6 separate regions of the Homo sapiens genome follow, and regions 2, 3, 4, 5 and 6 are each reported to be linked to region 1. The links are microRNA targets in miRTarBase. Many come from high-throughput screens and were not tested one by one. Region 1 holds a microRNA gene; each other region holds the end of a gene's coding sequence.

Region 1 (4,088 bases):
AGGGTAGATGCAGGATTTCCTCCTGCTTAGCAGCTGTCGCACTGCCCTTGGTTGCTTGAGAGCCCGGCCACCTGGCCGGGAACTATGCAAACAATGCACAATGCGGGCCTCAGCTGTCCACCGGCCCTGAGGAGGCAAGGCCTTGCCTAACTTGTTTTCCTCTCACCTTAGCTAATACTGAGAGTTCTCTGCAAGTTTCTCCACTCTCACTCAGTCAGCCTGTTTCATGGGGTCTCCTCCTTCCCGCCCCTGAGGCTCACCATTTGGGTCACCTTTAAACAAGGGGAATGCACAGGAGTGATGGAGCCCCCACTGGCAAGCAAGGCCCTTTGTTTCTCTGCAGGGCCTGCCTGGGGCCAGGCCACCGCCTCCATGCCCTGAGTCCCAAGGGCAGTCGGTGCCGAGGTACACCTATGGCTTTAGCTCAGTATCCGCCAGGGTAGGACAGAGGGCACAGCTTCCCAGAAGTGCCCAGGCTCTTGGATAGCACTAGGCTTCTCTGAGGGATGACTGCCCCATTTTACAGCTGGGGACACCGAGGCTCAGAGTTCCCAATGAGTGTCAGACTCAAGATGGCAACCCAGGCCTGACTCCTGATCCCCTGCGGAAGTGCTTCTGGGGCCTCTGTGCTCTGAGGGAAACAACTTGTTGGTGGGGACAGTCTGTCTAGGCAACCAGGTGAAGGCACTTGCAGAACCAAGAAGAGGGGCAGTGACAGGTCCCCACATCTGTTCATCTGCCTGTCTGCTATGGTTTTACCTGACCCAGGTCCTAAGGATGAGGAAAAGGAAGCTTCCTGAGGCTTCTGACGTGAGACCGCGTTTGATGGCACTGGAAACTGAGCTGAGGGCTGGGCTCACGCCTGTAATCCCAGCACTTTGGGAGGACGAGGCAGGCAGATCACCTGAGGTCAGGAATTCGAGACCAGCCTGACTAACATAATGAAATCCTGTCTCTACTGAAAATACAAAAATTAGCCAGGTGTGGTGGCATGTGCTTGTAATCCCAGCTACTTGAGAGGCTGAGGCACGAGAATTGCTTGAGCCCGGGAGGCAGAGGTTGCAGTGAGCTGGGTACCAGTGTCCTCCAGCACTCCAGCCTGGGCAAGGGCGACAGAGCGAGACTCCCTCTCAAAAAAAAAAAAAAAAAAAAAAAAAAAAAAAAAGAAGGCTGGAGGTGATGGCTCACACCTGTAATCCCAGCACTTTGGGAGGCCCAGGCAGTCGGATCACCTGAGGTCAGGAGTTTTGAGACCAGCCTGACCAACATGCCGAAACCCCGTCTCTACTGAAAATACAAAAATTAGCCAGGTGTGGTGGCAGGTGTCTGTAATCCTAGATACTTGGGAGGCTGAGGCAGGAGAATCGCTTGAACCTGGGAGGCAGAGGTTGCAGTGAGCCAAGATCGCACCACTGCCCTCCAGCCTGGGCAACAGAGTGAGACTCCGTCTCAAAAAAAAAAAAAAAAAAAGAAAAGTGAGCTAGGTCCCATAAGATGAAGCTGGCAGTTCTGCTGCCTTGGTATCTGTTCTAGCCAGCTGGGAATATAGGGGGCTGTATTCAGATCCTTCCGTGCCTCTAGCCTGGCATCTTCTCTGGCTGGCACACTGACCTGTGGCACATGGATGGTGGTGGGTGGGCTATCAGAGGGACTGTCCTTGTGGGCATCAGTCTGGGTCTCTGGTCTCAACCCCTTGTGGTCCTTACCCTGAGAGACTTCTAGATGCCTCCCTCCCTGATCCTGCCCACAGTTCCTGAGCACCAGCGCTGTGCCAGGCCCCAGGGCCCTAAAGGGCTCAGATACCACAGGGCTTCTTCTGCTGTAAGTGATCAGTCTAGAGAGAAGAGTGTCATTAGTGAGGTGACCAGGATTGAGGGTGAGGGGTGTTCCCGGTGGCCATGGAGATGCCTTGGGGAAAGGACTCATTGAGGAAGTGACTTTTTAGCTGGGCTTTGTATGATGAAAAGAAGTTCACCACAGGGAGGGCATGCAGTGGGGCTATGTGTTCTGGGAGCACTGAGTGATGGATGGGGTGGGAGAGATGTAAAAAGGTTAGGGTATGGATTCCTGGATGACAGAGGCAGGGTGTTGATTACCCTGCTGGGTTTTGGTCCTGTCCTTCATGCGGTGGGGACCCCCCTAGCCATGTTTAGCCAGTGGCAAGTTCGGTTGACTTTATGCCTGGTGGTGCACATCAGGATGAAAAGGGCTGGAGAGATCCCACTGTGTCTGCCAGAGCCCAGGCGGGCCTGGGGAAGGGGGACATGCCAACGGTGGCTTGAAACCAGCATCTGGGGCCACTCCAGGAGCTGTGTGGGGATGCTAGGAAGCCAAGAAGATACGTCTGATGCCAGTCCCATGCCCTGAGGCTGAGAGACCACAGGCTGAGAGGGAGGGGTGCGCTGGGAGGGTCCCAGCCCTCATCTGACACTGTGCTGCTTGCCTTTTAGTGTGCATGACCAACTGCCCAACTCTCATTGTCATGGTGGGCCTGCCCGCCAGGGGCAAGACCTACATCTCCAAGAAGCTGACTCGATACCTGAACTGGATTGGTGTGCCCACTCGGGGTGAGGCTTGGCCCCAGCTGTCTAAGGGGAGCTTTGTGGGGCATGACGAAGAGAATAGAGAAGGCCTATTCTCTATTATTTGGCCTGGGGTTGGGTCAAGGTCAGGGTTGGTAGGGGTTGCTGTTGCTGTGAAAGCTGAGCCTCTCCTTCCCTCCAGAGTTCAATGTTGGCCAGTATCGCCGGGACGTGGTCAAGACCTACAAATCTTTTGAATTTTTTCTCCCCGACAATGAAGAGGGCCTGAAAATCAGGAAGTAAGTATATGTGTTGGGTGTGGGGGGAGAGGTTGCTGGGGGACCCAGTGTGGAGAAAGCTAACACATTACTGACCATTTACTGAGAAGCCCCTGGAGTGGAGCTGCTGGTGAATGACTGAGCTACTCCTGAGCCCTGGCCTTGCCCAGCCCTGATGGCTGTGTGACAGGGCTGTGTGACAAGGCTGGTCTCTGGATCTCTCAGGATGTGGTGGGGGTGGGAGGTGATGGGTTTGGGGATGAGAGGAGAGGGTGTGTTGTGTGGCCTCCTGGTGGCTGGGCCATTCCTGCCCTGGGGTTAAGGAACCCTTGGGAAGGACAGAGCTTCAGGGAGGTAAGAGGGGCTCAGCCCATGCAGGTCGTTGGAGCTGCTGCCTGGAGGTCACGCTCGCTCACCCCAGCGCCCCGTGGGGATGGCTGCTGCTGGGGAAGGGAACCTGAGTGAGTGCAGGCATACAGGCCTTAGGGATGGAGCTGGGGGTGGGGGGCTTCCTCCCTTGCCCCAGGATAAGCTCTCTCCTGTGTATTTGGAGCATGTTCTTGGTGTGTGATTGCTGGTGCGATTGGCTTTGCATTGACATCTCCTAGATGCTGCTGGGTGAGTCGTTCACACTTCTGCTGTTACTCTGGAGATAGAAATATGTATATGCTACCGCCCCACCCTCAACAACTTTCAGACTTGAACTGAGTCCTTTCTTCAAGGAACTGAGCACCAGCTGGTGGTCTGAGCAGCCATGCTGTGCTTTTCTCAGGAGGTGTTAGCTGTGGTCTTGAGAAGCCCCTTATCAACCTAGGGTGGCAGAGACTTGCTCTTGGCCCAGCCATCAGGATAGGGCAGTGAGCAGAGGTTGACCCAGCTCTAGTGACTTCCCCAAATCAAGCCCAGTGGCTACCAGGCTGCCACTGGGGTCCACACTAGGCTACCCGTTCCTTCTCTGGCCACCAGGGGGCAGGAACTCCCTGCTGTGGGGCTTGGACCTTCAGACTGGAGACTGCCTTTGTTCTTGCATCGGTGTGGCTGGGCCAGGCTGTGGCACCAAGAAGGGAAGGGGAGCCTGATATTCAGGTTTCTATGGCCAAATTGTGGGTAAAAATCAAGGCTGGACCCTCTGGTTATATTGAGCCAGATAAAAAGTAGAGGACTAATGTCTGAACCTACCGTGTGCTGGGTTCTTGATGCCCATTGTCACCCCCTACTTTTACAGATGAGGAAACTGAGGCTCAGACAGGCCAGGAGTCTCGCACAAAATAGCAAGTTTACATCAGCG
Region 2 (4,088 bases), not on the chromosome of region 1:
GCCCGCCTGGCCCACCCTTGGCTGCTATGTCACTGCCTGGTGCGCTCTGTCAGTTTGGGGCAGGAAGTGGACATGTTGGTGGCTCTGTAAGTGCACGTGAGCCAGACCGTGTTTACCGCACTTGAAGAACAGGTGGCGTGAACTCACAGGAAGGGCCCGAGCACCCAGCCAGGCTGACCTGGTTCTCATCCCAGCCACTCACTGCCCTGCGGTCTTGGTCAAAATCTTCTCCCCCGAAACAGGATGAGGATGACAATGACGCCTGTGTCCCTGGGTGGTACCAGGGAGGTGGGAGGGGTAAGCCCAGAACCCACGGCCATCTTGGGGAGCCACCTGGAGGGATGAAGCGAGGTATCTGCGGGGAGGTCTGGCTGCTGGTGCTGCCCATGTGCCCGGTTGGCAGGGCTGGAGGGAGAGACTTCATGCCCTCATACCTGCCTCCTGCCCCCCAGGACAAGCGCTTCACCTCGGGAAAGTACCAGGACGTCTATGTGGAGCTGAGCCACATCAAGACACGGTCTGAGCGGGAGATCGAGCAGCTGAAGGAGCACCTGCGTCTTGCCATGGCCGCCCTCCAGGAGAAGGAGTCGATGCGCAACAGCCTGGCTGAGTAGAGGTGGATGCCGAGGCGTGTGCCCTGCAGGGTGGGCAGGGGCTGAGGCTCTCCCACACCCGGGACTCCCTGGACCACCCCAGCCAGGCCACTTCCTTCTTCTGGCCTCCAATTCCCGTTCTGTAAAAAGGACAATGAAACCAGCAACACGGGGTTGTTGCAGAGATCCCATCAGACCCGGGCCACAGGCTGCTTCATCAGCTTAAGCCTGTTCCTCCAGAGCTGGGCGGCACAGTGCAGAGCCACAGCCTACTCAGTGCACCCCCCTTCTTGGGGCTGGAGGCAAATGCAGCGTGCACATCCCTGACCCCCACAGTGAATCTCCACTGAGCTTCACACACACACATCGCACGCTGAGGCCGGGCTTCTATCCCAGTTAGTCTTAACACTCCTTCTTGACTTAGCAGGGCTCAAAGTGGTTGGTTGGTTGGTTGGTTGGTTGGTTGGTTGGTTGGTTGGTTGGTTTTGGTTGCTTTGAGAAAGGTCTTACTCTGACACCCAGGCTGGAGTGCAGTGGTGCAATCACGGCTCACTGCAGCCTCAACCTCCTAGGCTCAAGGGATCCTCCCACCTCAGCCTTCTGAGTAGCTGGGACCACAGGCCCTCACCACCATGCCCAGATAATTTTTGCACTTTTTGTATAGGTGGGGTTTCGCCGTGATTTCCCAGGCTGGTCTCGAACTCCTGGGCTCAAGCAATACACCTGCCTCAGCCTCCCAAAATTCTGAGATTACAGGTGTGAGCCGCTGCACCTGGCCAAAGTGTTCTTATTTTTGCTTTTTCAACGCCACATCTACCTGGAGCATCCTCTTTCTGATAAGTCCTCATGGACTTCCTATGGCATGCAGGAGAGGCCACCCTATGGCTGAGCTGCTTGGGAAGGAGCCAGGAAGAGCGGATCTGGCTGTACCTTAGGGGCTGAGAGGTGGTGGAAGGACCCACTCAGCACCCTTGCTTGGCCTTGGGGTGGCCTCGCAGCCCCTCAGCCCAGGCCTCAGCCCTGCCGCACCTTGTCTTTCAGGTCCCGCCCAGCTGCAGACCCTCCAGGCTGGAGGACCAGCCGCCCTCCTTCCCTCCTGGATGGAAGTAAAAAGCCAAGCTTTCTCCCCACCCTCTGTGGGCCACACGTGCACTTGCACCCACCACACACACACACACACACACACACACACACACAGACACACAGACACATACGCACACACGTGCACACATGTACACACGGATACACACACACACACACACACTGCATATCTGAGCGCGCCCCTCGCACTGGGTCTCACCTTGCACCTTCTTCAGGATTTTATATGTGAAGAGATTTTTATATAGATTTTTTTCCTTTTTTTCCAAAACACTTTATACTTTAAAAAAAAAAAAAAAAAGCAATTCCTGGTGGCTGTGTGCCTCCAACCCTGGTCCCCCTCTGTCTCCAGCCACCCTCTGCTTGGGCTTCTGAGCTGGTGGCCCTGGCCCAGAGGTCTGGCGGAGGCCCAGGCAGCAGCCATGGCGGGGTGTCTCTACAGGGGAGAGGCGGGAGCCTGCCACCCTCTTCCTGCCCTACCTCCTACTAACACTTCCTGCCCCATTTGGACCCGTACCATGGGGCTCAGGACAGAGGGAGCTAGCAGCTGGCCTCCATGGCCCCACAGCCTCCTTCGAGGCTGTGCTGGGTGCAGAACCGCCAGAGCCACCCAAAAGGTGTTTCTCTTCTGCTCCCTGAACCTCTTAACTTAATAAAACGTTCCAGCAGCTCTGGTGTCCTAGATGGCTGGCAGAACAGGAATGGAGATTGGGGTTTCTTGAAGTGGCTTCCCCACTCACACCCTACCCACACCCCACCCTTCCTAAAGCAGCGGCCTCTAGGCTTCTGAGGGTGGGGCTGAAAATCCAAGGTCTCCCTTAGTACAGACTGTGACGCCCCCAGTGTGGCTTGCAGGCTAGTGGCAGCGGAAGCATGTGGGAAATAGCAAGTCCAGTCCCACCCCAACCTACTGAACCAGCGTCTGCATTTTAACAGGGTGCCCCAGTGATTCACGTGACCTTCAAAGTCTGAGGAGCCCTGGAGTAGGGCCCAGGGCCCAGGCCTGAGAGAGAGGCCTGGGGCTAAGACTAGCCCTGACCATGACCTTGGGCAAGTCACACCCCTCACTGAGCCTCAGTTTGCTTCTCCATCAAATGGGTGTTTTTCTTTCAGTCCCAGTCCTCTCCTGAGGCTTTTCCCAGAGGTCATGCCCAGCCCTGGGCAGGGGTGAGGGCAGGGTTGTGGCTGCCAGGCACAGGTCCAGCGGGCTGGGAGTCCTCACCATGGCTGGCTGTGCTGATTATGGTTGCATGGGGCTGGGAAGAGGTCCCATTTCTGAGCCACAGAAACAGGCCACATCCAGTAGGGGTCCTGGAAGGCTGTGAGAACCCAGAGGAGACCCTGACCCAGCCTGCAGGTAGAAGACTGCCTTTGGAGGCAGCTTTGAAAGATGACTCTTCCAGATGGAAGAATCAGGAAGGGCCTTCCCACGTGGAGGCACCAGCAGGAGCAAACGTCCCTGGTGTGTTCAGGCAAAGAGCCACAGGAGAGTGACCTCGTGGAGTGGGAAGAGATTGTTTCCCATTCCCTTGCCAGGGATTGGTTGAGGAATGGACAAGGCTTGCAGTTCACGCAAGCCAGTGAAATGCGAGGGGAAGTCTTGGGAGTGGGGTGGAGGAGGTCATCTGGGAAGGGTGTCCTTGGTCTTAAAAAGAGGCACAAGAGGCCGGGCGCGGTGGCTCTTGCCTATTATCCTAGCACTTTGGGAGGCCAAGGCAGGGGGATCACTTGAGGTCAGGAGTTCGAGACCAGCCTGGCCAACATGGTGAAACCCCGTCTCTACTAAAAATACAAAAAATTAGCCAGACGTGGTGCCAAGCACCTGTAATCCCAGCTACTCAGGAGGCTGAGGCAGGAGAATCACTTGAACCCAGGAGGCAGAAGTTGCAGTGAGCCAAGATCGCGCCACTGCACTCCAGCCTGTGTGACAAGGGCGAAACTCCATCTCAAAAAAAAAGGGGGAGGGTGGCGCAAGGAGAGGACACCTCTCTCCTGGCCCTGTCGCCATCTTCCCTCATCAATAGCTAAAAATGGCAAAGAAGAAAGAGCCAGGACCCCGTGCCATCAAATCCTCCGGCCTTGTGCTGCCCTGTCTCGGCACTGCTTGCCTTAGGAGATCAGGAGTGTTCCTAGCCACTGGGAGATGGGATGCCTGCCACTGGCAGCTCTGCCGTCCATCCTCACCATCCCACCGTCCCCCCAAGACAGCTCTCCATCCCATCCTCTGCCTCCCTTCTAGCCTCAACCTAACTCAGGGCTCCCCCGTCTCACACCTGGGTTGCAGGAACATCCTCTTCACCAACCCCCCTCCCATCCCTCCTCAGGGCTGCCTAGGGCAGCTACAAAAACCAGGCCAGCCTCTGAAAGGTGCTCCACATCTCATTAAAAACCGTGAAA
Region 3 (4,088 bases), not on the chromosome of region 1:
CAAAGGACTAAAGCAGGACTAGAATAATGAATGAATCACTTCAGCCTGGAAAGCAGATACTCTCAATAATATTAATGTTATAATACAAGCTCATTCAAGTATTTTACATTTTTTTGTCCTTTTAAATATGATATCCTAGCACATAGTAAAGATAATGTACTACGAGCGTAAGGTGGAACCTTCTCCGCAAAGCCAGATGACAAGTTTTCCTCTCCAGTGAGAAATGGGCTCCAAGTTCTTATCTTCTCTGCCATCAGCATGGCTGAAGGGGGAGAGGGTGGGTGTTAGGGAAAATCCAGGGACCCTTCCACACAGGAGGTACTCTGGGGTTCCATTCAGGAGGGTGCCAGATAATTCAGATCACTCTACCCAGGCTTTTTGGCAAAAAACAACCCTCACCCTCCGTAACTAGTCATCTTCCTTGTCCCTCCTCCTCACTTCCCTTCCAGGGCCTTCTAAGCAGCTTACTTTCTTTTGTAAAATCAATCACCAGGAAAGGGGAAAAAAAAAAAAAAAGAGCTACAATGGAACAAAACAAAAACATTTAACAACTTTGACACAGGGGCTCAGCACCTCTATCTGAGCCCCAGGGGTCCAGGCTGGGGCACGGCTGGATGGCCCTTCTCTACTGGTAGTGCCTTTGCTCCCAAGTGCAGGAAGAGGGCTAAAGAGAAACCTGCCCCTTAACAGGGCTGAGGCACACAGACCTGCTGATGTCTGATGCCCAGAGGTTATGTTGGCATGGACCAACCTTGGAAGGGATAGGATGAACAGAGGGATCTGGGCAGGCTGTTGCTTTATCTCAGGTCTTGGATCCCCATGGGACGATGGTAGGTGTGAAGTGGTTAGCCCTGATGGCCCCTGCCACTTCTGGCATGCTTGTCACAGATACATCGGTCCTAAATTCAAGTGTCTTCAGAAAGTGAAGATGTAAACTACTCTTTGCAACATTAACTCCTAACATGTTACCAAAAACAAAAACAAAAACAAAAACAAAAAAAAAGGAAAGAAAAGAAAAAGCTCCCCTACCAACCACCAGCCGATGTTGAGATGAAGTCCTCACCTCCCTGCCCCAAAGGGGCTTCCTTTCAGGGATGTCTGTGAAGAAGATGGCAGCCCCCTGGCCTGGGAGTAAACTCTAGGTAATAACAGCCTTTCCCCATACCCTAAGGCTTCCTTGTGCCCCAAACCAGCAGAGGAAAAACACTGAGGTTTCTGTGGTGCTGGATACAGTACAGGGCTGCGTGACCTGAAGGAAAGAAAGGAAAGGAGAAGGGGGTCCAGGAATCCAGTGTCCGGTACAATGTGGGGCAGGCACCAGACTGGGCAGGGAAAGGCCTCGGATACCACCATCATAGCAGAGACCAGACGCTCATCCTTGGTTTGAGACATGAAGTCACAGGAACTGAGATGGGCTTCCCACATACCAACCACTGGGAGGGCAAAGGTGGGGAAGGGCACAGGCTAAAAATTAACAAGGTGCCCAAGGTAAAGGGCAAGCCCTTGTCAGCCTGGGATACTGTCTCCTACTCCCAACCTTTGGGCCCAACAGAGGAACCAGTTGAAAAGGAGGGCCAAAGACATTGCAGTAAGTAAGCAACAGGACAATGAACTCCATGTTGCCCAGATCCCACTGAGAGTGAACGTGCAGTCATGCCCATAACCGACACACATCCCAGTCCATGTGGGTCAGTCCTTCATCACCCTCCCTGCCTTCTGACAACAGCAGACTCCAGCCATTCCATTATCATTCACAGCCCAACCCAAGCAGTCAGTGGCTGAAGAAAGAGAATCAGGTATACTCTATGTCCACATATACCTTCCTGCCACAGGGCTTCACCAACTGGCAGGATTCCCCCCAGCCCCCAACTCCTCCTCATCCCTTGTTCCCAGGCGGGTCAATTGGAGAGTGAGCAGAGATAGATGGCTTGCAGAAGGGTATGCAAGATGGGGAGACTCCACCAGACCTTAGGGAGAGAATGGCATCTTTCTCCACCTTTTAAGAGAGACAGAGCCTCCCTGAGGTCTCAAAGATTTTTCAGGGCAACACAAGAAACGTTTCCAAGCCTCAGCTGCAGGTGTTCACCTTTCCACTCTGGGGTGTGAGGAGATGGTAAGCTGAGGACAAGTGTGTTCCAGATGCAGGCCAACTCTGTTCTCCAACAGTTTGAACCAACTTGGCCTTGGGGTTCCAAGGGTAGGATGAAGGGTGTCACGGCAGGACGGGGCCTGGCGTGAGGCAACAGCAAGCAGAGCGAGGACACAACAGTGGCAGCAGTGTACAGACACAGGACGTCAGCTTCAAACGATGCAACAGCAGGGATATCTTGGGCACGGCTCTGATTCGAGCCACTCCCAACTCTCTTGCCTCCAGGATGGAGGCACTGTACATGCAACAGTCCAGAGAAAGATTCTAGCCAGTCCAAGCCCAGGCACATCCAGAGAAGGTGGGAGCTCTTCGGGTTGACTCCACCGAGGAAAACAGGCATTTGGGTATTTCAGATTCCCGCTCCACAATAAGGCAACTTTTAAAAAAATATTATTTCCAAAAACAAAACAAAAATTCCAAGGGGAGGGGAAAGACATTACTTTCTGTGGATTAGGTGGGGGTTTTCTGATTTTTTTTTTTTTTTTGGTCTTTTATGGTCGATTTTGTCTTTTTTCTTCTTTTTTCCCCATTTTTTCAAGGATGGAAAGGTCAGAGAAAAATAAAATAAAACATCTTTCAATAGTCTTTCCTGGTAAAAGCAGCGTCTCTCTGGGCTGGGGAGTAAAGGGTGTGGGGCAAGGGGAGTGGGGAGAGGCTGAAACCTTCCCCCAAACCCCAGTTTTAGATCCTTTGGTTTCCTTCTCCCAGAAGATGGCAGAAGGGCATGGTGGGAACAGCAGGGAGAAAATATGGTGATGACAAACCCCAGATGATCAAGGGGCTGATGCTCCTGGGGCCCAGAGGTACCACCAGAGCCTTCTATGAGACAGTGCTGGGCAATGGGGGGGCCCGCAGGGCCTTCTTGTGGGCTGCATAGTTGGCTTGAGGGGGAGCAGGAGGTTAGGGGTGGGGACCAGGGTTGCAGCCTACTAGCCTCGGGCAGGGCTGCAGAGTGATTTTGGTAATCCAGATGAACTATCAATAATTTAAAACTTGATATATATATATGTATATATATATAAAAATCTCCCCCCTTTCCCTCCCCCCTTAGAAGAAGCTAGGATGTCAAGAGTCATGGAGAGAGGAGGGGGAAGGGGATGTAGAGGCTCCTGCCCAGGGGTACCTCTGATAGCCCAAATGGTGTATACATTGCTACTCAGCACAAAGGCCTGTCCTAGTAACTCCAGGCCTGTCCCTTCATTGTCCCCTTTCCTGGGACTGGGCACCCCCATGGACTCTTACCCACCCTACCCCTTTCCCCCCTCAAGCCCCAGGGCTAAGGAGCTTTTCACTTTCCCAAAGTCTGTGTGTTCGAGTGCTGGCTTGTCCATTTGGCATCTTCCCGGACAGGCTGGCCGGTGGGTGGTGTAGGGGGTTGGCTGATCATGGCAGCAGGCCTGCTGGAAGACTGGGAGGGGCACCGCTTCCTGCCCTCACCGCCGCCACCTCCTGCTACCACTGAGTGTCGCTTGTGGTTGCCCTCCTCACCCATGGGGGGCTGCAACAGAGGAAGGAGTCACAGGTGATCAGAAGCACTATCTACGCCCTCTTCCTTGCCAGGCCCGTCTAGACACTTCCTACTTTCTACCTCCAAATATAGAAAATGAATGGGTTTAACCTTAAAAATAAATTATAAGTTATTAAGCGTTTCTTCATGCCAAGCCTTGTGCTGTTTTATGCACACTCTCTCATGGGGTCAGCATCACCCTTTGATGTGGACCCATGGACATCTGATTTTATAGATGAGGAAACTGAAGCACAAAAAAGTAACTTCCCCAGGGTCTCATAGCTGGTAACCGATAAAGACAAAATTTAGGTCTACCTGCCCCAAAAGGCCAGGCTTTTATCCAACCTCATTTCTGCTTCCCTTCCAAGAAGGGATCTCTTGCTCAGAAATGTGGAATGTGGCATGCAGTATGCTGCGACGTCTCAGCTCAGA
Region 4 (4,088 bases), not on the chromosome of region 1:
TTACTGATGTTTAAGGAGTGATCTGAATGAAGTGACAAAGCCAGGCATGTGAATAACTAGGGAAAAGTGTTCCTGGCAGAGGGACCATCAAGAATAAAGGCCCTGTGGTGGGATGAACGGAGACTATACAAATAAAATTTTGGCATAGTTATGGCACAAAATGAGCTGTGATTAAGGCTCTTATAATCACTACTAACTATAACTGTCATTAATGACACTGTTAAGAGTCATAATAAAGGGGCTGCAATATGGCTTGGGCAAGAATTGACTTCTGACCGTTATTCTGAAATCCTGGCATAGGTTGTAAGAGTTGGTGTCTTTCTCTCTCCCATTCCCAGGGCCCCCCTGGAGCAATGCACACCCACCCACCCACCCCTCCATCTCCAGCACACAAGCGTCCCCCCTACTGCTCATTACATTCTGTCCATGATGGTTTCTGATGTCTACTACTCAGGTGAATTTCAAGGATTGCATCCACTTTACCCCCACCCCTTAAAGAGAGCACCCAGGACAAAGCTCTGCATGAAGTACAGATTGTGAATTGGTGTTGACTCTTGGGCTCCTCAACCCACTATCTCCTTCCCCCATCCCATCAGATAGAGAATGGCCTGATTTTGGTCTGGAACAGAAAAAGCAGAAGTGCCCCTGAGGATCTTGTTCTTAATAGACTCACAGGCCCCTCCCTGTCCTGGACAAACTCTTGTGGCTCTTAGGGTGGGATCAGCATGAGGAAGGAGGCTCCTGCTATAGTTTCTTGTAGGTTATTTTGCAACCTAACTTCTTCCCCTCTTGCTTTCTCCACGGACATCATCTGCTCCCAGACCATTTCCCTCCCATCCCTGACACTTGCTATCTCTTTGTTGCTTTCCCTACAAGCCGAGTTCTGCCACAGCACATATTTCAATATCACGATTTAGGAGGGAGGCAAGTATAAAGTGTAGAAATCTGAATTATGGAAGAGATTTCTTTTTTTTTCATAAAGAAATGCCACTTTATTATTTTCAAGTACATAGGTAGTACCTCAAACTAATGTCTTACAAAAGGTCACCAATAAAGATCCTGTAGATGTTTCTTTAACAAATACATAAAGATTGATGATAATTAGCCCATGCACTCGCTGCTTCTAAAAGGATATTTCTAAAGTGCCTGAAAAGTATTGTTTTTGGTAGACTAAACATGCCACCTCTAGCAATATTGTTTATGCTCTTAATTTACTAAAAAAATGCCATTTTTATTGATTGTGCAAAGATAAACTTTTGTCCACAGTTAGTAATCTCCAATTAATCGGATCCAAATTAATATTGTCTCCCACTTAGATTCCCAGGCCCAAGGCAATGACTCCCTTACTTCCTTGCTTCTGATAAAGCAAAATTCCAGTGCAATGAAATGACAGCCTTTGGGAGGTGGTTTATGGGTCTGACCCAATGCTTGTCTTTTGTGCTTCCTTCCTGTCTGCCTTAGGTCTTCCATTTTCCTCAGATGTCTTTCTCACTTGCATGACCTATCTAGGTCTCTCTCTACAGGACATTCCCAGTGCCTTCTAAGCCAGGCTTAGAGAATGGGCAAGGCTGCCTGCAGAGCAAAAGTGTTAGATAGGGAGTAAGGGAAAGAAAGCTATCTCCTGTAGGAACCTGAAACCAACTCTCCAGCCCAGGGTAAGTGGGCACAATGATCGTCGGTTTGAAGGGCATTTGCCTGGAGGGAACAGCCCTGCCACCTAAGACGTCAAAAGCAAATCATTTTTTTTTTTTTTGAGATGGAGTCTCACCCTTTCGCCCAGGCTGGAGTGTAATGGCACGATCTCAGCTCACTGCAACCTCTTCCTCACAGGTTCAAGCAATTCTCCTGCCTCAGCCTCCTGAGTAGCTGAGATTACAGGCGTGTGCCACCATGACTGGCTAATTTTTTGTACTTTTAGTAGAGACAGGGTTTCACCATGTTGGCCAGGCTCGCCTCGAACTCCTGACCTCATGATCCACCTGCCTCGGCCTCCCAAAGTGCTGGGATTACAGGCATGAGCCACCGCACCCAGAAAAAGCAAATCTCTTAGTATTTTTCCTCTTGTCCAAAGGTTCTGACCATGTTCATGACCTAAGCTTGTCCCTGGAAGCATACATGTCCCTGGGAGACAGGAAGGTTCAGGGAACTTCTCCACCCTGATTCTAGCCAATGGCCAGCGAACTCCTTTTCCAGGGTTGGCTTGGCAGTGTCGGGGAATGATGCAGGTTCATCGGGATGGGCATGAAAAGAAAGGGAATGGAAGAGGCTGGGAAAGAACTTGTGGCCATCCCTTTCAGAACAGCATGGAGCTCTGAGGACTTAGTATTACAGAAGGTGAAGTGTTATTAAGTACATGAGTGACATCCGGACCTTGTGGACTAAGAGGACCCCTAACCAAGGGTCAGCGGGGAACTCTGTGGCACACAAGTGTGGCATTTCTGGAAGCTCTTGATTGCCTTCTGGTCCTGCCTCTGCTGCTACCCTGATGAGATCTGAGTTTGTTCTGCTGGTGGGGTATTCTAAAATGTGGGACGTAGAGCTGGAGTCCACGACATCTATCTGGAGACTCATGTCAAATGTCCTGTCATTGGCACTACCTCACTTCCTTTGTTGTTTCCTTCCTCCAGCCAGCCCTACCTCCATCTCCCACCTGTCTGCCCAGCTCTCCCTGAAGGTCCCTTACCAGCCTCGACTGGGAGACAAGTCCACCTTTTCCAGTCTCAGGCTCTTGCACTCACCAGAAGAACCTTTTGTGATTGCAAGGTCTGAAGGGGAAGCCAGGGATAGAGTCCTGCAGGAAGCTAACGGGGGTGGAAGTGGGAAATGGAGTGAGGCTGGGGTGATCTGAGAGGGCTTCCTTCTGGTTTAGATGGGTTCCTGCTTTTGGATGCTGATCTATTACAGTAGGAAGTGGGGTTGAAGGGATGGGAGTGGGCAGGGTGGGGTAACCCTTAATTCCTCAGAAAAAATAGACAACATAGTGGAGTGGGATGGAAAAGGATCTGGTCGGGGGGACTCTAACACATAGTGTCTAATCTGATTGTTCACAGTTAGGTCTATGGGGTCATCACCCCAATTTATATACCCCGCAACTTAGCCTGCTGAGTTGCCTCATTATCTCTCCCCAAATGTTGCCACCCAATGCCACCCGTTATTTCCATCCCTCTCCATCACCATCCCCACAACACCTCCAGAGCTCCCCATCTTTCCATGCCTGGTTCTTCTTCCAATGGGGTCAGTAGTATGTCTCCTTCTCCACCCAGCCTGTTAGAGAGATTGGGAGTGGAGATTGCAGCATGAGCTTAAAAGGAGGCAAGAGATCAATTTCCTAGGGGCTTGGGTCGCTGAAGCCAGGTGGAAGGAGAAGCCTGGTGAAGGGCACTGGGGGAAGTGGCTTAGGAAGGTGGAAGGAGGCTGGGTGCAGTGGCTCATGCCTGTAATCCCAGCATACTGGGAGGCTGAGGCAGGCGGAGATCAAGACTCCTGGCTAACCCAGTGAAACCCTGTCTGTACTAAAAATACAAAAAATTAGTCGGGCATAGTGGCATGCGCCTGCAATCCCAGCTACTCTGGAGGCTGAGGCAAGAGAATTGCTTGAACCCAGGAGGCGGAGCTTGCAGTGAGCCGAGATCGTGCCACTGCACTGCACTCCTGGTTGGGCGACAGAGCGAGACTCCGTCTCAAAAAAAAAAAAAAAAAAAAAAAAAAAAAGAAGGTGAAAGGGAGGAGAAGGAGGTCCAGTGAGCTGGGGCCATAGGTTAAAGGAAGGGAGGGTGAACCTGCCTTTAGGGGAGACTTGTATTTAGCACATTGGAGGCTGGGGCAGAATAGGTCGAGGGTGAAAATGCAAACGCCCACAGGGCCTCTTCAGGTGACGAACGAGAGTCTAAGGGAGCAGCTGTCCATTCTTGCTGTGCAGAGATGTGGACATGGGATTAACAGCTCTTCTGATCTTCAGGAGAAGTCGAATTCAGATTTTATGTGAAAGACCCTAAATTTTCTATATCGGACCAATTAATCCACCCTCCTCCCCCCACACACACAAAATATGGCACAGGTCAAACCAAACAGTATTCCTGGACAGTATT
Region 5 (4,088 bases), not on the chromosome of region 1:
TCTCAAAACTATTTTAAGCAAAAGCATGTCACTCACCAAGCATTCACGAACTCAGAGCCAACTGGTGTCCTCACTCCCAGGTTTTGCAAAGGTCCCTTCTCTTCCTTGCCAAGGAAAAAATGTTCTCGTTCTGTATCGCGGAATTAATAAAATCGCCAAGACTTTGCTATAACTTTCCGTGCTTCCTACTCTCGAATAGTGAACCTGTCTCAATATCGGAAAAGACAGAAGCGACTGCCCTCTTGCGGGCACTATTGTCACTGCATCTATTTTGGTATCAAAAGCACTAACTGCACTTGAGGACCAGGTGTTTCACCTTCTTGCCAGGTGTGGGTGAGAGTCACGCACGTAACTGAGTAGGTATTGATCATCTCATCTGAATTTTGTTCTACATCTCAACAGGTGTTGCACACACGAAACACTGCAACTATTTATAAAAGTGTGCTTATAGGAGCTTTCGTCTTGAGACGGAGTCCCACTCTATTGCCCAGGCTGGAGTGCAGTGGCGCAATCTCGGCTCACTGCAACCTCCGCCTCCCGGGTTCAAGTGATTCTCCTGCCTCCGCCCCCCAAGTAGCTGGGATTACAGGCACCTGCCATCACGCCCGGCTAAATTTTATATTTTTAACAGAGATGGGATTTCACTATGTTGGCCAAGCTGGCCTCAAACTCCTGACCTCAGGTCATCCACCTGCCTCGGCCTCCCATAGTGCTGGGATTACAGGAGTGAGCCACTGCACCCGGCCTAGGAGTTTTATTTATTTATTTAAAACAGTGTTTAGATACCAACTTGGCTTGCGTTTTCAAACATATTTATGTTATCTGTTTTTGAAATTAACATACATTTGGTTGTAGTAAAATACATGATATAGTTTGGATATTTGTCCCTGGCCAAAGCTCATGTTGAATTGTAATCCCCAGTGTTGGAGGTGGGGCCTGGTAGGAGGTGACTGGATCACGGGGGCGGTTTCTTAGGAATGATTTAGCACCATCCGCTTGGTGCTGTCCTCATGACAGTGGCGGTTCTCAAGGAATCTGGTCGTTCAGAGGAGTGTGGCGCCTCCCCCTCTCTCGCTCCTGCTTTCACCATGTGACGCGCCTACTCCCTCTTCGCCTTCTGCCTTGATTGTAAGTTTCCTGAGGCCTCCCCAGAAGCCAGGCAGATACCAACATCATCCTTCCTGTACAGCCTGCGGAACTATGAGTCAATTAAAACTCTTTTCTTTATAAATTACCCAGTTTCAGGTATTTCTTTATAGCAATGTGAGAAAGGACTAACACAACATAAAATTTACCATTTTAGCTATTTTTAAATGTATGGTTCAGTGGAATGATTAGGTAGATTCACACTGTTGTGTGGCCATCACCATGACTGATCTCCAGAACTCTTTCTTCATCCCAAATAAACTGTGTCCACTAAACACTAACTCTCCATTCTCCCTCACCCCTCAGTGCTTGGCAAACATCACTTTACCGTCTGTCTCTATGACTCTGACTGTTCTAGATACCTCCTATAAGTAAGATCATATAATACTTGTCCTTTTGTGACTAGCTGATTTCACTCAGCATAACGTCCTCAAGGTTCCCCCATGTTGTAGCATGTGTGAGGGTCTCCCTCCTTTTGAAGGCTACATAATATTCCACTGCATGTATATACCACATTTTGTTTACCCATTCACCCGTCCATGGAATTTGGGTTGTTTTCATCTTTGACTATTTTGAAAAATGCTGCTATGAACATAGGTGTGCAAATACCTCTTTCAGACTCTGCTTTTAGTTCTTCTGGGTATACGGTATATCTGGAAGTGGGATTGGTGGGTCAGATACTAATGCTATTTCCATTTTTTTTTTTTTTTTTTTGAGAAACTGCCATACTGCTTTCCCCAGTGGCTGCACCATTTAACATTCCCACCAACAGTGCACAACGGTTCCAATTTCTCCACATTCTCTCCAGACAAAGAAGATGTTTTTAAAGACCAATGCTGACATATAACAAATATAGCAATTTTAAGTCATTTCATTTTATTGAATTATGTAAAACATCTTTAAATAACAGTAAAAAAATTAAGAAACCATTGCACAAATTCAGTCACAATGATGGCATACTACAGCCCACAGAATTTAAATCTCATGTGAGTTGAGTTAAATTAATTTGCTGGTACAAAGAGAATATAATGCTCTTCCTGCTGGGAAATTATTTCCACATATTCACATTGTATAGGGATTCTGAACTTGTGATATTTTCAATAAAAGGTCCATATCTTAAGAATTTGAATTTAGGGCTTATCAATGATCTTGAAATACAGGGGTGGAGACAGGTTGGCAGCAAAACAAACTGCTCAACTAAGCAATGAAGAAAAATCTGCCTCTGTATCCAGATAGAAATGAATTTCAAGTGTTAAAGAGGCATCTCTCACGCTGCTCGAGGGTGGAAAAATCTTGTCAACTGGCAAAAGGGAAATACTCACTAATCACTGGGCATTATGAAAAAGTACAAATTCCTTACAGGTACACATTTGCCTTATCTGATTTTATGTTTCTTCTCACTCTGCCAATTATTTTACAAATATAAAAAGAGTAGTTTTAGCAGAAAAAAGGGTTATGGAGTGAAATACTAATAAGCAATAATGGAATGTAACCAGGGCAATTTCATACCTGCCAAGGAGCATAATTAAAAGAGAATACAAAAATCTAAAGGTGAACCTTGCTCCTATACCAAAGTAAAATCGATTTATTCCTTATTTTCTAGTCTAATCTAGTATTTCATTTCCTACTCAGTTTTCCTTTTTATAAGAGTAAAACATTTTTTGGTTGAATTTAGAACTAATTAAAAGCATTATGGTAGCTTTAAATTTTGTAGAAAATTCATTTGTATAAAAACATTTGTCTTTAATGTTTAAAACCATATATTATTAGAAATATCATGGGTGTATATAATGCAACATAAAAATGTCCAGCTTTGACTGTGGAAGCACTAGCTGGTCTAGACTATTTTGAAATATCCAAAAATCACTACTCACTCATTGTGGGCCACCTTGCCAATATCAAGTGAATGAATCCATAGGTTTGAGGTGTTACCCTCTCATTCAAGGTTTAAAACTTTTATAAAATACCTGCAATGTTTCTTTGAAATATCCAGCTACAAACAGGAGAACAATTCTAGACACTACCTCAAACTTGTGTCATCCATTGTCATGAACTTAATTGTTTCAAAGAAAATGCTAAAAATTTCTAACTTGCTTTAGGAATTAGGGGCAGTGAACATGCAACCTGACTCTCTCTCACTTATCCATCGTGTTGAGGAGCATTTCACACCTTAAATGCTAAAAACTTCTAACTTGCTTTAGGAATTGGGGGCAGTGAACACGCAACCCGAATCCCTCTCACTTATCCATCGTGTTGAGGAGCATTTCACAGGTCACGCCTTCATCCACTTCCTCTTTGACTCTGGCTGTGGTTTCTCTGCAGGCGACAGGAAACATCTCTCCTGGGAACTGTTCTCCCTTCGTGGTGGAAGCCTCCTCAGCAGCAGCTTCTTGAGAAAAAGTCCAGGATGAGCAAATTTATCAGAAAGCTAAGGAATTGGAATTTATAAACTGTGCAAATATATTTTGGAAACCATCACTTAAATTTGAACACGGCAGCAAGCATGTTAGAAAACAATCTAATTGATAAGATGGTACTATTCTGATCTCAACTACTGCCTTCAGTCAGGGCTTCTTAGCCTCAGCGCTACAGACGTTTGGGGCCAGAGAGCTGTCTGCTGGGGGCAGGGCGCTGTTCTGGGCACTGTAGGATGTTAGCAGCGACCCTGGCCTCTACCACTAGATGCCAGTAGCACCCTCCTCTCCAGCTGCAAAAACCATAAAAATGTCTCCAGACATTGCCAGTGTCCCCTGAAGGTGACGGGGGGGGGGTGGGGGGGGGACACAGTCATTCCCAGCTGGCATCAGCTGCTATAGGTGAATGTGGATCTTACAGATTTATATCGAGGCGGATCTCAGAGATTTATATTGTGGCTGAGCTGCTCACCTAAGTCTTGTCCCAGTACCCATGTAATGATGCTGCCTACATGAAGAAAGCCAGTT
Region 6 (4,088 bases), not on the chromosome of region 1:
ACTTTGCAAGGTTTCTACTTGGAAGGACAACAGTCATCCTAATGCATAGTCTCATTTCTATATAGTACAAGTCTGCAATTACTGAAGAGACAACTGCTTAAGATCAGTGAAACTACTTACATCAGTTACCTTCAACCTTTAATTTTCATAAGGGAAAACGAAAAGCTTTCTAAAATTTTCAGTTAAACATAAAGATCCTTCATATAAGGAGAAAAATATAGCCAACCTACTCAATTTTGTATTTGAGGAATGGAGAATAAACAATTACACAGTTTTGACAGGATCCCATAACAGCAATCAAATAATGATGAGAAGCAGTTACACAGACCTTTTAGAGAGAAGTTTGTGCTAATAGAAATATGCAATGTATTTTAATTAAATAAATAGCACTGATGTGACCCCAACTTTTTGATATCCATAGTTGGTGATATATATGACCACTTATTACATTGATTTTCTGGAGTATTATAACACAAATTTATAAATGGTTTTAAGAAAATATTATAGAGAAGTTTTACTGACACTTGGAATTTTACATGAAGGGGAAAGAGACATAGCCAATGGCATCCCAGTAATAATTTCTTTACACATCTGATACGAGAAACCACAGAAACATTCTTAACTGATACAACATGAATTAGATTCTAAAGGCATTCTTTAAGACATAGAGAAAAAAGAAACAAAGAAAATTCTCAAGTTTACCATTTACAAGAATAGTTTATGCAATTTCAAGAAGTCCTTACCAAGGCATTCAACAGCACTGTAAGTTCAAAGTTCATTTGGGAATTAAAAGAATGAATAAAATACTCCTTAGAGGGAGTACAAAGTTTATTCAAACATTTTAGAAATAATCAATTAATTACATAAGTATATAGTGAAATCTGTCAAAAACAATGTCAAGTAACTTGTTTTTAAAGTGGCAACGCAATATAGTAAAGCAATGGCTTTAATGACTAAATGAAAGAATCACAAAGCACCTAGAAATATTTATTGAAGAAATAATAAACAAATTTTCATGATTTATTTTGTCCATTTGCAATTTCAGTATTTTAGCTCTATCTCATATCATTTTTTGGTAGGTGCTGTTAACATATGAGGTTAAAGTGGTAAGTCTCACAATAAAGTAGCCATCTTCTTTGAATATTTCATCTCTTCATTTCTATGAATATAATCATCTTTCAGCTGCATGATTCCTTCAGCCTGATTCTCATTTCATGTCTCAATAAACGTGTTTTTGCCTGATAAAGAGAACTGTGCACATATTGATTCTGCTTTTTTATCTTTTTTTTTTTTTTTTTTTTGAGATGGAGTTTCACTCTTGTTTCACCGCTGGAGTGCGATGGCTCAACCTCGGCTCATTGCAACCTCCACCTCCTGGGTTCAAGCAATTCTCCTGCCTCAGCCTCCTGAGTAGCTGGAATTACAGGTATGCGCCACCACGCCTGGCTAATTTTTGTACTTTTAGTAGAGACAGGGTTTCACCATGTTGGTCAGGCTGGTCTTGAACACCTGATCTCAGGTGGTCCACCCACCTCGGCCTCCCAAAGTGCTGGGATCACAGGCGTGAGCCACCATGCCTGGCCTATTTATCTTTTCATACTGCTGTCAGGTCCTTCAAGGCTATGCTTCTGATTGCCCACACACTTTACTTCTGAGTATTTCATATTTTACGGGTAGGTAGGGTACCAACTTAGTATGTTAGATAACCATTGTATAGTAAAAACCAGAAATGAAAATATAATAACCCTTATAACTCCTTACATATAAGAAAGACAGAAATACATCAAAGAAAAAACATTTTAAATAATCTCAGGAAACAATAACAAGATCCTCTCCCCGAAAATAAATATAACAAACATATTAGTAACCATAGCTAAACAAACACTGTAATATAAGAACTCCATTAGACATAAGAAATAGACATTGAAGCCAGGTTTTGACACTTATTCTCCACATCCAGCCAGTTGTCACCAGTCTAGTAAGTGCTACAGGGTTAACTGCCTCTGGACTGACTGAAATATGGTTGTACTTACACAAAAGAACACTGGTTCAGATCCAGCAATGACTTATGAACTTGCCCATAGGTAGAAAAAAATAGCTTACTGGATTTATATCTGCTTCATAAGAGACTTTTATCTGCCAGCCTGACCCCTCTTAAAACTTTTTTTTTTCTTTTTTGGTTTGATATACTCAATAGGCACTGGCTTTTTTTTGTGATGTGGCTTTTTTTGTGATGTGGCTTTCCACACTATTGTAGAAGTCCAGAATCCCATTTAATAAGATGCATGAGCTATTAGTCAATGAACTTTAGGGCTGGATGGATCAACGAAGTGTTTTTCACTGCCCCAGCTTCCTTATGAACCAGATTACTGACCAGCGGTGAACTACAATAAATTCGAAGACACAACTAACAAAAACTTAGGAAGGCCTGGAAGAGAGGTGCCAAACTGCACTGCAAATACAAAATAAAATATTTTCATGTTCTTGATAAATATTTATAAAAAAATATACATATAATGAATAGGCCATTTTATAATGCTAGTTAAAACTTTGAAGAGCTGTTAAATCTGTAGGTCCATCAATATCCTGGCTTCAAATCAATATGTAGAAATATTTTTAATTAAATTTCAATAAATACACCAGAGGGATTTAAATATGATAAAAACAGTAATTTCAATCTCTGTTTTTACCAACAATATGTTTAATTAGTTCGTGATGGGCTTGAACTAATCAATAAACTACAGTCTACAAAAAGGTTTTTGTAAAAATGCATTCATTTCTGATAATAAATAAATGCAGATTGATTCTGTACAGTCAGAAAAACCAGGATGGTGGCAAATAGCAAAATAGAGAGATGATAAATCTTGGATCCAAAATCAAATGATCAAAGAAGACAGTTAAAGATATTTTCAGACTGCCCACATTAGAGTCATGTAATCTGCATCATTCTTTCTCAAGGTCTCTCAATTGGGCACCAGAATAACATCAGATCTAAAACCTTGTTCAATATTTCCTCTGGTTCACCTTTTGATTATGTAACAAATACTTTTTGCAAAAGATGAAAAAATAAAACTGTAAAATCATTTGGATGGAGTTAGCCCAGCTAGGTCTTTTGGTGTCCTAGCAATTCAAACTGAAATTAAAGGCTTCTTATAGCCTATAAGCTTCTGAAAATGCAGCTAAGTGGCATTCAAAAAGACAGAACATTTTTTCTACTTCCGTAAATATAAAAGAAATTGAAAAATCACCACCTAGAAAAAAAAAGCTAGGCATAAATTCATCAGCACCAAGTAGAAATGATCTTCAAAAGGGGCAAGTCTCTTATGTATCCTTGTGTTAATGAATAGGTACTAATCTCTCCTCTAGGAAAAACCCACTGCCTGACGTTAACATCTTTAGGCAAAAGAAAAGGCAAAACTCAACAAATTACATTTTGATTCATCCAAATAGAGAGAGAGAGAGAGATTTCAAGATTTTTGGCACTACTTTAAGCATTTTTCAGGGTAGGTATGATTTTAAGTTCGACTATCTTCTTCCCTACTCCATTATTTGCAAAAGCAGGAAGTATCAAATTTAACTCTATTACTAATAATTCTTCAGGTATCATTCCAAAAGTTGTACTTAGTCACAATACAACAGTTAACATTTAAATAAGACTCTAGTTGCAGTAAAAAGTGTTGAAAGGTGGTCATATCAAAATCTTGGTTTTCTTTTGTACCTATCAGATATGACTAAATTGTTGGTGGCCAGAACTCAAATCACATACAGTCAACCACATTATTGGATCCATGACCTACATCTCGAATTTGGCTAGTTAAACAGGAACACACAGCTACTCCTGCTCCAGCTCTGCAGTGAGACACAGATCCAACAAGCTCCCACCTGAAAAGACGGAGAAGAAAAAATGTTACAAAGCATAATTTACTTTACTCAAAATACTAACCAAAGACAAAAATTCCCTATGTGAGACTGGTTTTGTAGGACAGCAAGCTTCCAGTGGGAGATAAGATATCCCAAAGCTTAGTATTAACTACGACTAGCAACATTTTAACACTCTGAAGTAATCTACTATTATACCAGAAGATAAT

What was found. The annotated mature microRNA hsa-miR-6823-5p reads UCAGGGUUGGUAGGGGUUGCU and lies in region 1 at 2,669-2,689, shown strand. An mRNA with a match to its seed (bases 2 to 7 or 8) in the 3' UTR can be bound and repressed. Matches are read on the target gene's strand: a 7mer-m8 pairs with bases 2 to 8, a 7mer-A1 pairs with bases 2 to 7 and ends in A, and an 8mer does both.
Region 2: the mRNA of TRIOBP is a reported target of hsa-miR-6823-5p. Seed matches in the 3' UTR shown: 7mer-m8 at 2,019-2,025 and 7mer-A1 at 3,030-3,036.
Region 3: miRTarBase lists LARP1 as a target of hsa-miR-6823-5p. Seed matches in the 3' UTR shown: 7mer-m8 at 3,064-3,070.
Region 4: the mRNA of ATP1A2 is a reported target of hsa-miR-6823-5p. Seed matches in the 3' UTR shown: 7mer-m8 at 2,191-2,197 and 7mer-m8 at 1,925-1,931.
Region 5: miRTarBase lists CTCFL as a target of hsa-miR-6823-5p. The part of its 3' UTR that is shown has no 7-base or 8-base seed match.
Region 6: the mRNA of KLHL8 is a reported target of hsa-miR-6823-5p. Seed matches in the 3' UTR shown: 7mer-A1 at 3,499-3,505, 7mer-m8 at 1,989-1,995 and 7mer-m8 at 1,472-1,478.

What each region holds. Positions count from the first base shown.
Region 1 is chr3:48,548,597-48,552,684 of GRCh38, reverse strand. It overlaps MIR6823 (microRNA 6823), which reads left to right and starts at 2,664; the gene lies at 2,664-2,724. PFKFB4 (6-phosphofructo-2-kinase/fructose-2,6-biphosphatase 4) reads left to right here. Exons shown (of 14, transcript NM_004567.4): 2 at 2,451-2,567; 3 at 2,725-2,821. RefSeq lists enhancers at 1-263, 264-927, 928-1,589, 1,590-2,253.
Region 2 is chr22:37,772,149-37,776,236 of GRCh38, forward strand. TRIOBP (TRIO and F-actin binding protein) reads left to right here. Exons shown (of 24, transcript NM_001039141.3): 23 at 453-616; 24 at 1,635-4,088. The coding sequence ends at 614. Among named protein-coding and RNA genes, the nearest start is that of H1-0, 31 kb to the right of the region's middle.
Region 3 is chr5:154,813,446-154,817,533 of GRCh38, reverse strand. It overlaps LARP1 (La ribonucleoprotein 1, translational regulator), which reads right to left. Exons shown (of 19, transcript NM_033551.3): 19 at 1-3,647. The coding sequence ends at 3,438. Among named protein-coding and RNA genes, the nearest start is that of MIR378H, 14 kb to the left of the region's middle.
Region 4 is chr1:160,140,470-160,144,557 of GRCh38, reverse strand. ATP1A2 (ATPase Na+/K+ transporting subunit alpha 2) reads right to left here. Exons shown (of 23, transcript NM_000702.4): 23 at 967-3,264. The coding sequence ends at 3,236. Among named protein-coding and RNA genes, the nearest start is that of ATP1A4, 9.1 kb to the left of the region's middle.
Region 5 is chr20:57,495,167-57,499,254 of GRCh38, forward strand. CTCFL (CCCTC-binding factor like) reads right to left here. Exons shown (of 11, transcript NM_001386993.1): 11 at 2,000-3,535. The coding sequence ends at 3,384. Among named protein-coding and RNA genes, the nearest start is that of CTCFL, 28 kb to the right of the region's middle. RefSeq lists an enhancer at 3,695-3,744.
Region 6 is chr4:87,159,761-87,163,848 of GRCh38, forward strand. KLHL8 (kelch like family member 8) reads right to left here. Exons shown (of 10, transcript NM_020803.5): 10 at 343-3,882. The coding sequence ends at 3,759. Among named protein-coding and RNA genes, the nearest start is that of KLHL8, 59 kb to the right of the region's middle.